Homo sapiens: one gene and its partners. The protein of the gene in region 3 purifies or fractionates together with the protein of the main gene of each other region. This does not show direct contact. Each region holds a gene or a part of one and is shown on either strand. Other genes may lie near its edges.

What was found. The genes of interacting proteins can lie anywhere in the genome.
Region 1: the proteins of TPST2 (region 3) and XPO6 purify together in Homo sapiens (affinity purification with mass spectrometry; one large-scale study listed by BioGRID and IntAct). This does not show direct contact.
Region 2: the proteins of TPST2 (region 3) and SEC62 purify together in Homo sapiens (co-immunoprecipitation; 2 studies listed by BioGRID and IntAct, with this or other methods). This does not show direct contact.
Region 4: the proteins of TPST2 (region 3) and SLC9D1 purify together in Homo sapiens (affinity purification with mass spectrometry; one large-scale study listed by BioGRID and IntAct). This does not show direct contact.

The regions. Positions count from the first base shown.
Region 1 is NC_000016.10:28,201,966-28,205,465, forward strand, and holds part of XPO6 (exportin-6), read right to left. Parts: intron 1-3,500. UniProt on the Homo sapiens protein: Mediates the nuclear export of actin and profilin-actin complexes in somatic cells.
Region 2 is NC_000003.12:169,990,807-169,994,306, reverse strand, and holds part of SEC62 (translocation protein SEC62), read right to left. Parts: intron 1,714-3,500; coding exon 1,244-1,713; 3' UTR 1-1,243. UniProt on the Homo sapiens protein: Mediates post-translational transport of precursor polypeptides across endoplasmic reticulum (ER). Proposed to act as a targeting receptor for small presecretory proteins containing short and apolar signal peptides.
Region 3 is NC_000022.11:26,580,133-26,583,632, forward strand, and holds part of TPST2 (protein-tyrosine sulfotransferase 2), read right to left. Parts: intron 1-3,500. UniProt on the Homo sapiens protein: Catalyzes the O-sulfation of tyrosine residues within acidic motifs of polypeptides, using 3'-phosphoadenylyl sulfate (PAPS) as cosubstrate.
Region 4 is NC_000013.11:113,497,521-113,501,020, reverse strand, and holds part of SLC9D1 (transmembrane and coiled-coil domain-containing protein 3 isoform 1 precursor), read right to left. Parts: intron 2,680-3,500; coding exon 2,500-2,679; intron 1,064-2,499; coding exon 872-1,063; intron 1-871. UniProt on the Homo sapiens protein: Probable Na(+)/H(+) antiporter.

The sequences.
Region 1 (3,500 bases), on a different chromosome or scaffold from region 3:
TATGATAAACTAGCAGCTGGAAAGCCTCAGAGAGGTAATGTTTATGGTAACCTTGAGATGTCACATAAGTTTCATTTGCAAGAAAGAAAAGGGCGCTAGAGCAGAGGGAACAGCATCAGCAAAGGCAGACAAGTATTAAAGTGCACTGAGTGTTCTGGGAATGACAAATGGTTTGCTGTGGCTGGAAAACAAGGTGTACTTTGGGAAGTCTTTCATAGATACTCCAAATAAATCACTTTAAGTATTTAATGAACCATCTTCATCCTTACTGAGGGACCTCAAAGTAAGTAAGAAACTTAAAATTCAGGGCCCATGTTACTCTACCATGATGAAAACTTGGTCTCAGACAACAGTGGGAACCCTCTGCTCTGAATGACTGGGGTTCACGTGGCATGATCACATCTGAGCTCTATGAGGCAGCTCAGCAGTACGGAAGATGGACAGAGGGACGCAGAACCTGGAAGAGAGGACCGGTCATGACAGCAACAACCAAAGCAAGAGACAATGACAGCTTGATCAAAGCAGAGGGAATGGAGGGAAAGGTCAGGGTCAGGACACAGATACGTTAGCAGCAGCATCAACAGGTCTGGAAGCAGGGGGGCGCTATAGAAGAGGAAGTTAAAGATGACTCAGGTTCATCATTTGACTAGCTAGAAAATGAGGTCATTAACAGAACCAGGGCAAGACAGAGGAGGCACTAACCTGAGAGGAAGATGATGGATTTGGTTTAACACACATTTAATTTGATGTTGTCAGAACACTGGATATCTACAGCTGGTGAGGGTTTAGTTTTCATTGGTACACGGGTCATAGCTGAAGCCATGGGAGGCTAAACCAAGAGACTAATACCATGGATGCCACGGGAGCCAAGAAGAAAAGTGTTTCAAGAAAAGAAAAGGAGATCAGTGGCTGCCAAAGGCCACACTGAGAGGTCAAATGACCTAAGGATTGAAAATACGCATTAAACTGAACTCAGCACACAGATGTTACACATAATCTTGAAAAGTGGTAAAGACAAAAAGTCTGCTGGCTGGGCGTGGTGGCTTACGCCTGTAATCCTAGCACTTTGGGAGGCTGAGGCCGGAGGATCACTTGAGCCCAGCAGCTCAAGGCCAGCAGGGGCAACATGGTGAAACCTCGTATCTACAAAGAATACAAAATTACCCAGGCATGGTGATGCATACGTATAGTTCCAGCTACTCAGGAGGCTGAGGTGGGAGGATCGCGTGAGCCCCAGGAGATAGAGGCTGCAGTAAGACATGATTGCTCCACTGCACACCAGCCTGGGCGACGGAGTAAGACCCCATCTCAAAAAAAAAAAAAAAAAGTCAGTCAGCAATGGGTTGTAGAATGAATGACAGGGGGAAAGGAGAGGTGGGAGGTTGAAAAAGTAGAGGTAGAGTGGCAACCACACTTTCAGGAATTCCTACCCTTTCAACACAGCCTGTGCTATCACATCTTCCTTGGCTTAGACAGATACATTTGACAATGCAACTACTTAAGATCTTCAACATCCTTCTCGTGCCCAGGGCCAACTACCTTCATGTCAACAGCGCCACAACTGCTCACCTACCTACAGAGATAGCCACATCCCATATTTCATCAGCACATGGCCCATCTCCTGTCATCTCTTCCTATCAGTTTACATGTTATCGCTTCCATTCCTACCAAATCCAAATCACCAACTGATTAAAACTTTCTACTACTCTCAATCGCCAGGTTACAGGCTTCCAAAATCAGCTTGTGCTTTTCCTTCTTCCTCATCTCTTAACTCTGGAATCAGTTTTAAGTGACAACTCCCTTACCAGGTCTTCCTCTCAACCACTAATTACACATGCAAGAACAGGCAGGCCCTTGTCACATCCACACAGGCATGGTGTAACATCTGGTTTCCCACATCTAACCTATACACAGCAGATTAAGTTTCCTTTAAGGAAAAACCATCCAACAAGAGAAAGCCAAACTCCCTAGGGTAGTACTGGAGACCCTCCATCATCTAGCCACAAACTACCTTGATAGCCTTCTCTCCAACTACTTCTTCACATCCTTCTCTTCTGAAACTTCCAAACTTCTGAAACTGCTAGGGAGCCTAGTTTACTCCTTCCCTAAAGCTCCCTTTGAACACCCAAGACCTCAACAACATCCCTACCACAATTTAATTGCCCACTATGCCAAGAATTGCTCTAGACTCTTGGGATACATGAACAAAAGAGAGATTCCCTAGCTTTATGGAGCTAACATTTTAGCAGGAGACAACAAAAGACCAACCTCATTAATAATATTGAGTATATAAAATGTTAAAAAATTGTACAAAAAGAGAAGTAAAGCAGGATGTCAGGGACTGGAAGTGCTGAAGTGGCATTACCATTTTAAACAGGGTGGTGAGGGAAGGCCCCACTGGAAAAGTGACTCGAGGCTTAAAGGTTTAGTCAAGCAGATTCTCAGGGAGAGCACGGTCCAAGCAGAGGCAGGGAGCCAGGCCAAAGGCCTGGAGCAGGAACATGCCCAGAAGGTCTGAAGAGCAGTAAGAAGACCGAGGGAGCTGCAGCACAGCCAGTGAGAGCTAAAGGAGGTGAGCTAGAGGGGAGATGTGACCCGTCTCACAAACCAGCTTGGATGTCAAGCAGACAGCTGGAGACTCGAGAACTGGAGCTGAGGAGAGAGATGTTGGGTTATAGGTGTCCTGGATGAAGGCACTAAGTTCGAGGCCTAGAGTGTTCCGGCTATGAGATGAGGAAGAAACAACCTGTGCGACAGGAGGAAAACCAAGAACACACCTTAGTGTCCCAGCGGCCAAGTGACGAAAGGCTGAACTGCAGAAGGGGTACTCCACTTGTCTGACACTACTGACAGATCCAGTAAGATAGGGACTGAGAGCTAACCACTGGATTTAGCAACACTGGATAAGCAACACTTATCACCTTGATAAGTGAGATTAAGAGAGAATAATGCCAGGCGTGGGGACTCACATCTATAATCCCAGCATTTTGGGAGGCCTAGGCAGGGGGATCCCTTGAGCCCAGGAGTTCAAGGCTGCTGTGAACTATGGTCACTCCACTGCACTCCAGCCTGGGCGACAGAGCGAGATCCTATGTCTAAAATTAATGAGCAAAGGGAAAGTGAGGAATTAGAGACCAAGTACAGGCCACTCCTTCCTGGGGTTTTGTTGCAAAGGGGAAAAAAGAAATAGGGCAATAACTGGCCAGGAAAGTAGGAGTAAAGGTTTCAGATAAAAAAAATACCATGTTTGTGTACTACATGTATATGTGTACATAGGTATGCATATAAAGCCCTAGAAAGTCCTACGCACCCAACAAATGTTTATTTCCTTCACTCTCACTTCACACCTATCATTTTCTATTATCTTTGTTGCTATATATGTGACCTTTGTAACTGTCTGCAAGAAACTTTCACTTGGAAGGCCCTTTCTTTGTCCCAGTGTCAAACTCTTCCTCATCCTTCAAGACTCAAATATACCTTCCTGGGAAGCCTTCCCTGAC
Region 2 (3,500 bases), on a different chromosome or scaffold from region 3:
AGTATAACTCCAAGGAATGATTATGCTCATAAGTAAACAAGAGTTTCCAAAGACTTGTAACTAAGATGTATAAGACGTAAAGTCAAACTGCAAAACTAGTTCAAAGCAATTAGAGTCCAATAGTTCTCTTATGTTTTCTTTCATTATCTTTATTTTAAATTTGATATTTTAGAATAGGAAATTATCTTTCACAGCAATGCCTCCTGGTCTGATAATACAGTATCTCATTTCTGAATGTAAAGATTTAAAATAAATCAAAATGAACATTAAGGCGTACAAAGCTACTTTAAGTCTGCTCTTAAGATCAGTTTTTGCTCATATTCAAAATACATGGAATGTTGGCACAAAACTGAAGCTGCTGTAGAAAGATCACAGATGTTCTGTGGGTTACTCAAACTTCCATTTCTCTAAAAACATACCCTTACATGGTCTTAATTTTATGAATTTAAGTGTTGAGAAATATCTAAATAATAAGTAACAATTAAAATAAAATGTTTTATTTGTAAATTATGTACAGAATACACTTTACGTTACGCCAATGAAATGGGGAGGGAGGAGGGAGAGCCATCACCTTCCAACAAATGCTGTTCACTTTCTCTGCTGGAGACGACCATCTTTCTCTCAGTCAGACGTACAAATCAGTGTGGATTTCCTACATTGGAAAAATAATTTAGCTAAACCAGAAGTGTTGCTGCATTGTTACTAGTTGGCTTGTTTCCACAAAATAGTTTTGAACTCTGCTAACTCAGAATCTTAAAAGAAATCTCCTGGTATAATTTTATAATGAAAAATAAAAACTATCAAGGACAATGAGTTTACACATCTTAAAGAAACTGTGAAATGGCTACATAACTATGCATAATGTGAAATGTTGGAGTTTCTTTGTTCCTTTTAAAGTTATTTTTGATTAGTCTAACAGTAAAAAGCCATAAAACTATCAAAAATTGCCATTAATGTAAATTTAACTGTGGAAAGTACATCTTTGATAACTGTCAAAATGAATGAGACCTACTTACTGTAAAATTATCAAATGGATAAAACATATTAATGGCTTTAAACTGTACCAATAATAGTGCCAATATTCTATAAAATGAAGGACCGAATATAACTGCTTGAATGTCAAATACATTTCAGTAGATAGATTTAAAGAATGCTACAAATGCCATGTGTTCAATATGGTAATCAGCCAACATAGAAAATCCAACCTCTTGTACTTATTCATTCAGTCCCAAAATTAGTCAGATTATGATTTTTCATGTGAAGATTTAGGTGTTTCTCCATCATTTTCCTCTTCCTCATCCTCTTCACAATCCCCATCTGTTTGCTGTTCCAGTTCCTCTTTTGTTATCATTTCAAAATCATTTCCATTTCCACTACTGTGCTGGGATCGATCATCTTCCCTCCTGTCACTGTCCGTGTCTGAATGCCGTTCTCCCCCCGAGCCTTCTGTTCCATGATTTCCTGGTCCTACTTTCCCCTCCTCATCTTCCTTTTTCTCACTGTCTGACTTTTCCTCACTGTCGGACTTCTGTTGCTTTTTGGTTTCAGACTTCTCATCTTTCTTTAAGTCTGCTTTTGGTCCTTTGTATTCATGTGTGTACAGAGGCCTGAAGGAGTCAATGAAGCCCACATCAGCAGTCAGATTTGGCAAGAACCAAAAGTGGTGCCTTCCTCCAGTTATGAGCCAAATGATGAGAAATAGAATGCATCGAGCTGTGGGGAGAAAAATTTCTCTAATTGAGTAATTCAAACACTGCCTCAGAAGGGAGTATTTGTTAATAAAAAGCTGGGAAAACAGTTTTATTATCTGCACATTTCATACACCTTAAATATTAATATTTAAATCCTGATTAGTGCTGGGCGTGGTGGCTAAACCTCTAATCCAAGCTACTTGGGAGGATCACTTGAGCCCAGGAGCTCGAGGCTGCAGTGAGCTATAATTACACCACTGCATGCCTGAAAACAAAAAATTCCTGACTAGTTTAGCAGCTATCACGGTATTCTAGGGGCACAGAATGTTGCTCTGAACTTGAGGTCACAATGCAATAATGTCACTGAAAAAAATTACTTCTTTTTTCCATCTGGGTGTACACTTACATGGATATACACTTCTGATTTATGTACTTTGTGATATTATGCTTCAATACACATAGCAATCAGTTGGGAATTTAAGTATTCATAAGATCATGGTGTAGGAAAAGAATAAAATAAAGAGATGAAAGGTGTTTAGGAAGGAAGCCTTTAAGAAGGAAAAGCAGGGCTGCATCATACTTCCCAAGGCCCTAGGCCCTTTTGCCTTTGTAAGGCACTTACTCCACAAAAACTATTAAATATTATATTTTCTATACATTTATGACTATATTTTCTGTACATCTGTATAAACACGAATAAAATACTGTATAGGTTTGCTATTACATACATGTATATACATTACTACTTCTGATTTAAAAGAAATAAAAATGAAAATATTTCTGTGGACCCCTATATGTATCTTGGTCCAAGGCACACGTTTACTATGCCTAAAGGATAAATTAGCCCTGGATAAGGAACCCCAGTATTAGAAAGTTTCCATCTTTTAATCCTTGTTTTCTTATTTATTTATTGAGGACAAGGTCTTGCTCTGTCACCCAGGCTGGAGTGCAGTGGCACAATCATGACTCGCTGCAGCCTCAACCTCCTGGGCTCAAGCAATCCTCCCACCTCAGCCTCCAAGTAGCAGGTACGTGCCACCATGCTCCGCTAATTTTTGTATTTTTTGTAGAGATGGGGTCTTGCCAAGTTGCCCAGTCTGGTCTTGAACTCCTGGGCTCAAACTCCCAAAGTGCAGGGATTACAGGTCTATATCTATCATTTATTTATCTAATCTCTCTCTCTCTATCTATCCTCCCTCTCTCTCTACCTATCTACCTACTTTGATAGACAGGTTCTTGCTATGTTGTCCAGGCCAGTCTTAAACTCCTGGCTTTATGTGATCCTCTCACCTCAGCCTCCCGAGTAGTTGGGATCGCAGTTGTGAGTCACTGAACCTGACCTTTTTGTTTTATTAGTTAGGTAAACTATGTAATTTTTGCTTAAAGACCAATCCTCTCAATATTAGGAAAAATACAATGTTAATGAAAGCAAGATCACTTAAATACATAAGGTTTACTCTTTTATAACACTGTATTATGAAAAAACTGTAGAAAAATGGAATTTGAATTTTAAAATTTGTAGTAATGAGTTATCACAAACCCCAATATTTAGTTTTCTCTGAATTTACCAATTATGTAGAGCTGAGTGATTTTTTCCTGTTTTTTAAAAGGTCATGATGATTATGTGAATGTTACAGACTAATCAATTATGACAGGAGTTTTGGTTTTTGTTTTCTTTAGACAATTCTGTCACTGTTTTCATATAAAGCCTGAAATAAGCTAATCTATGTGTCTTCCATTATTTTGCTTTGTATAAATGGAAGAAAATCGTTATAGCTGTCTTGACTTTTAAAAATAGCAATTTTTATT
Region 3 (3,500 bases):
ACTCGAGAGGCTGAGGCAGGAGAATTGCTTGAGCCCAGGAGTTCAAGGCTGCAATGCTGCCCCTGCACTCCAGCTTGGGCAACAGAGCAAGACCATCTCAAAAAAAGAAAGAAAGAAAAGAAGAATAAGAAAATCACCAGACAGAGAAGGAGAGAGATGAGCACTAGCAGCAGCCTGGAACAGGAACCTCAGCTCCTACACCATCAACGGGCACCTACATCCCTGCACCCACATCTTAGCTACACAGCCATCCCGCCCTTCAGTCAAGGCCCCTGGGTATCCAGGGAAGAAGGGGAATGTTGAGAGAGAGGTGACTACTGGCCCAGCCCCCTCCAGCCCTCTCACCTGTTGTGGGGCTCTCCAAATTCCAAGCTTCTGAACACTACCTTCCCAATGTTAATTACATCCAGAACCCCCTTTAATCGTATTCATTTTTGTTCAATGGATCCAATATTTTTAAAACATATTTTCAAGGGAAACTATAATCCACTGGATTAAATTTAAAACATGCCCTAATTAAAAAATTAATGCAAAAATAAAATCGAAGGAAGCAATGTTTTTTTATGCCTTCTGGCTAGAGACGGCCGCCAGCCTAAGGAAGGATCCCCAAAGGAGCCGGTTGTGTCCGATCTTTGTTAAACAAGAGGAGTCTGGGGAGAAGCACTAAAGACGCGTTAGCACCTAATGGAGGCTTTCTCCGGAAAGTCATCAGAGGGTGGGGAGGAAGACTTTCGCTCTGTGATTTAGCACTTCATACTAGGCAACAGCAGCCTCCAGGGCAAAATTCAAGTCCTTTGGCATCGCACTGAGGCTCTGTTGTGACTTAACTCCTGCTGACCTCCAATTTTATTATAACACCACCGATTCCCCCAACCCTCAACATACATACACACACACACACACACACACACACACACACACGCACACACACACACACTATAGTCTTTGTGCCCTGAACTCTACCAAACATACCAGGCCACAGAGTCTCACACCTCCAAACTTTTGCACTTGTGATTCTCTCTCCTTGGAAAACCTTTCCTGACCTCCTCTACAAAGCTAACTCCTACTGGCATCATTTGCACCCCTTCCTCCAGGAAGTCTTCCCTGACTGCCTCCTGTCCCTGTACCAGTATCCCCCAAGGTGCTTAGCATCCTGTGTGGCTTCTGGTGTTGCTTCCCTGCCAACCCCATGGAATGTGCAGGGCTGGGACCCCATCCTAGTCCCCACATCCTCTCAGAACCCAGCATGGTCCCCAAACTTCCAGCACAGGGTGCACAGGTATTTGTTGAGTAAACAGAAGGATGGATTGAGAAAGAAATGAAGGCACCAGAACACTCTGGGACAGAAGGAAATCTAAACTAAACCCTCTCTGTGCTCTGGGAAAAAGTTCTAGGCAGAAGCTCCTGTCCAATAAGAATCAGTCAACTTGACTCAAATTGGCCTCACCTACTCATTGGTCCACAAACTCTGGGCCAATGGCCCAGCCTCTATTCAGTTTTCTCGCCTGTAAAGTGGAGACAGTAGTATTGCCTATGATAGAATTGAGCTAAGAAAAATAAACGTAAAGAGCTAAGTACCCAGAAAGCACCCAAGTCTTAACTGCAATCATTACTATTTTTATCAGCATCTAACACTCACCAAATCAAAGTTTTATAACTTGTAGGGACTCAAAAGATGATTAGAAAAGCAACTGGCAGACTTTCTCTTCAAAGGCCAGCAATGTGGGCTCTCTGGTCTCTATCACAACTACTCCACTCTGCTTTTGTTACACAACAGCAGCCACAGACAAAATGTCAATAAATAAGCATAGCTGTGTTCCGATAAAACTTTATTTACAAATACAGGTAGCGGGCCGGATGTGGCCTATGAGTGGTAATCTGCCAATTTCTGATCCAGACCCTCACTATTCCAAATGTGGTCTTTAGACAAACACCATCAGAGGCCCCTGGAAACTGGTTAGAAACACAGTCTTAGTCTCTGCCCCAAACCTGCTAATCAGAATGTGCACTTTAGCCGGGCGCTGTGGCTCACGCCTGTAATCCCAGCATTTTGGGAGGTGGAGGCAGGCAGATCACTTGAGGTCAGGAGTTTGAGACCAGGCTGGCCAACACAGTGAAATCCCGTCTCCACTAAAAATACAAAAATTAGCCGGGCATGGTGGCAGGTGTCTGTAATCCCAGCTACTTGGGAGGCTGGGGCAGGAGAATCGCTTGAACCCGGGAGGCAGAGGTTGCAGTGAGCCGAGGTTGTACCATTGCACTCCAGCCTGGGCAACAAGATCGAAACTCCATCTAAACAGAAACAAAAACAAAAACAACCAAAAACACAGAATCTGCACTTTAACAAGTTCCCCAAGGGGATCATATGCATGTTAAGATCTGAGAGGCCTGGGTACTCAACTTCATAGGCTGACATCTCACGTCAGAGATGTGGGTTACTTTTTCTTGCCTGATGCCTCCACCAGAACGTAAACTCCAGGACAACTAGGACCTCGTTGCTTCTTAAATCTTGCACCCCAACATCCAGTTGAGGGTTCTCATGTGTCCTTATTCTAGTGGAAGACGTCACTCAGTGGCTATCCGTGCAGTGCTGGGATCAAGGCATGACTTCCACTGACAGCCTCTGAAGTTGGGCAGATGGGCTTTGAGTCCTGGTGCTGAATCTCAGGCCTGTGTGACCTCGGGAAAGTGACTATTTCCAAGCCTTGGCTTCTGGGAAATGGCGTGGTCAATAACAAATATCTCACTGTGGGGAACAACAGTTAGGTAGGGGCCTGTACCAGGTAAGGTGGCACGGCACCCTAGCGCCCAGAGACAGGAACTCCCCACACAGGGAGTATGCAATGGGGACAACCTCCAGTCCCAGCACTCTGGGAGGCTGAGGTGGGAGGATCGCTTGAGCCTGGGAGGCAGAGGTTGCAGTGAGCCGAGATCACACCACTGCACTCTAGCTTGGGCAACAGAGCGAGACTCCATCTCAAAAAGGAAAAAAAAAAAAAAAAAGAACAAAACAAATAAAAGGCCAGGCACAGTGGCTCACACCTGTAATCCCAGTACTTTGGGAGGCTGACACGGGCAGATCACTTGAGGTGAGGAGTTCAAGACCAGCCTGGCCAACAGGGTGAAACCCCGTCTCTACCAAAAAAATACAAAAATTAGCTGGGCATGGTAGTAGGCACCTGTAATCCCAGCTACTCAGGAGGCTGAGGCAGGAGAATCACTTGAACCGAGGAGGCAGGGGTTGCAGTGAGCCAAGATCATACCACTGCACTCCAGCCTGGGCGACAGAAGGAAACTCCATCTCAAAAAAAAAAAAAAAAAAAATGCCTTGAGGGCTTAAAATGGCAGACAGGGTATCAGGAGGCCTCAGACAACCTCCAATATCCTAGAAACACAGAGCTGGAAGGGCTCTTGGAGCGTGTCAAAAAAAAAAAAAAATTGTGCCATGCGCGATGGCTCACACCTGTAATCCCAGCACTTTGGGAGGCCAAGGCAGGCGG
Region 4 (3,500 bases), on a different chromosome or scaffold from region 3:
CAGTGAGGAGCAGGATACTTACAGTCTCAAAATCTCTCCCTGGAAATTGATTATTCATTACAAAGGGAGAAAGAATAGTTTTACAGATACCTCCACCCCTTCTTGGAGGGCACTGACAGAGTCACTCGGCAGCCCCAGCCCTCCTGGGACCCACTCCATCGTGACCACATCTCTCTCTGGCTAGTCCTCTTCCTCTCGCCTGAGATAGCACCGTCTTTGAGCCTAGATTCTCTGGCTTGGTTTCTGCTCCTGTACAAACCTCCAGTCTCTGCTGGAGACCTGACAGTATATCAGATCTTGCCAAGCTTCCCTGAGGGGCTGCACCTGTCATGGTCGTGCCACTCCCTCCTGAGTGACCACCCGAACCATGATGCTCTCAGCTTCAAGTACCTCCCTGCATAGCCTTTGTCTAGACCAAGTTCCTGGGAGGAAACAGGTCTGAATCCAGTTCCATCTGGAACGCCAGGCACTGCTGGATGGGTTCTCATGCTCTGCACCCCAGGGCTAAATGAAGCCATATATGACTCCTTAGCCAAGACCTCTCTGCCTTTTAAGGATTTTTAATTTTAGTGAAAATGGTTTTTAGATGACTAAAGCTTTAATCCCATTACAGTAACTCCTAATTTCAAAGTCTTCCAAATTCTCCAAAACAAAATTAACTTTCATTTTAAATATTAAAGTATCTTATTCCTTTAGAAAAAAAGATTAGAAATTAAGGGAAGATGCCTCAAATCACAGATAATGTACGGAATTCTAGTAAAATCTCTGCTAGAAGGAAGGCTGTGCCTTGTTCAGAAGATAAAGCTCGGTCATACTGACACCATGAACCAGGAATTGGGGGAAGGCAGGCATCCCCACCATGACTCACTACCTTTATAAAGTGGTGATCTGCACGTGGGATGGTTGAATCTCTGGGCTTGGTCAAAATATACTGGTTGTTCTGGGAGTCAATCAGCATGCTAAGACCCAAGTCATCCTCCACTTCTCGTTTTGTTATATTTTGCTTAGAATTGGCCTCTTCTTCCTCCACCCTCAGAACTGCCTCAAAATTGACCCCCTTGACCTGCAAGAATAATAATATTATGCAATTAAAATCCATTAAATGCTTTCAATTTTTGGAGAATGAACGCTAAACAGAAGAATGTTAAAAATACATCAATCAGTGTTCATTAGCAGTGAATTAGGACTTCTTTTTCAATTAAAGAAGTAATTTAAGAATGGATAGGTTTAGGATTTCTGCTACTTTCCAAGATCTACTTCACCATTCTTTCAAGAAATTCATAGCCCTTAAAATACGAGTTCTCCTCTAATTCCATAACTAGTAGATTTTAAAACAACTTGTTTCTTCTGCTCTATTTTTATTCTCTCTGCTTTCTTTTCTAATCTTATTCTGATTTGTTTTTATTACCCAACCTTTTTGTGAGTCCTCAAGACCCACAGTCAATTTTCGTCATCAGTCCCACTTTTTTTCTTAGAATCTTAAACACACTACAACAAATGAGCAGCCTGAATTCCTGCTTCAGAGATGAAGATCATTTTCTATAAGAAGTTCAATGTTCCCCTGTTACAGGTGTTCAAACCAGAGCGACTCCATCTTGAATATGAGCAGGGTAAAATGAGGATGAAACCTACTGGGCTGCATGTCCGGGACAGGCATTCTTAGTCACAGGGTGAGACAGGAGGTCGCCAAGACTGATATCACAAGATACAGGCCACAAAGACCCCGCTGACAAAACAAGATGCAGTAGAGAAGCCAGCCAAAACCCACCAAAACCAAGATGGCAATGAGAGTGACCTCTGCTCGTCCTCACTGCTCACTATATACTAATTATAATCCATTAGCATGTGGAATGACACTCCCACCCGCGCCATGACAACTTACAAATGCCATGGCAACATCTGGAAGTTACCCTATGTGGTCTAAAATGGGAGGAACCCTCTGTTCTAGTAAACCGCCACCCCTTTCCCAGAAAATTCATGAATAACCTACCCCTTGCTTAGCATGTAATCAAGAAATAATCATAAAAATAACCCACAGGGCTGCTCGCCTATGGAGTTGCCATTGTTTTGTTTCTTTACTTTCTTAATAAACTTGCTTTCACTTTACTCTATGGACTACCCCTGATCCAAGAACTCTCTCTTGGGGTCTGGATTAGGACCTGTTTCTGGTAACACCCCAGTAGATCAGCATTAAACCCAACTGTCCAGGCTGTCCTGAGACTAGAGTCCCAGTGTCCCAATCCATCTGGCCTCTGGAAAATGCAGACAAGCTGCTGAGGAGGGGAACTGACTGTCGGTGTTAAAAATATAAAAGGAAAATAAAAGATAATTAGCTTACTTCTACAAGACCAAATTATTTTCTCTACGACAGAGAAGCATTTTAGTTTGTCTTCATTTTCAATCTACATTAAAAACATACACGTGAACAATTTCAACAACATGTCTTCTGATTAGTGAGTGGCTCAGGAGGTGAAGAAGCAGCTGTTCTGGAACGCTTACTGATTTATTGTCGTCAAAAGCATGTTCCTCTATCTCTTCCTCCAGACGATCCGCTGCCTTTCTTACATCTTCAAGAATCTCGTCAAGCATGGATAAACTTTGGTTTTGATGTTGCATATTTTTAAGGGCTTCAACTTGATGTTTTTCTGCTGCCAGAAGTTCCATATATTCTGTTTCTTCCTATTCATTTGTAAGAAAAGAAGAGTGAGATATATTAAGAAATAAGCTAGGACATGACTTTCTTAATCAATCCTCCTGCTTTGTCAAATGTCCCTGTTCATATGTCAATAACTTAATTCTGGTCAGCTAGGGAAGTCACGTGTCCTAGTTATTCAAACATAACTGAGCTTAGCCAAATGTTTAGGGAAAGGTTTTTGTGTACGTACATCAACACACGTAAGAAACATTTGTTACACAAAAGTAAATGTAATATCTGTAGGTCATCCATTCACACAAAACTCATTTACTCAACAGTGACTGTGCTCCAGGTCTATCATGTGTGTGAGTGCAGCGGTACTTTAAAACCAGATGTGAGACCTGAATGTGGAGCTACTATCTAAATGCAATGCACAGTCAAATTCAAGTTACAAGGGAAAGCTGTTCCAAAACACATGTAGAAACCAACAGCATTAATCATTTGAAGAACTGATGGATGATGCTGGCAATATAATTTAGTAATGTATTTTACACAATTATATTTAATCAATAATCTTACTTTTAAACATTTATTCTTAGCTAAAGGGGTGGGACAAGGCCAGAGCAGAGAGGACCAGAGCCTAGAAGAACATCATCGCCTCAATTACTAAGTAGTCATGAGACATCATCTGATGCCACTGACAAAGAGCTGCAGGTCTCACACAGCTGCAGGTCTCTCACACAGCTGCAAGACTCACACAGCTGCAGGTCTCACACAGCTGTAGGTCTCACACAGCTGCAGGTCTCACACAGCTGCAGGTCTCACACAGCTACAAGTCTCGCACAGCTGCAGGTCTCACACACAG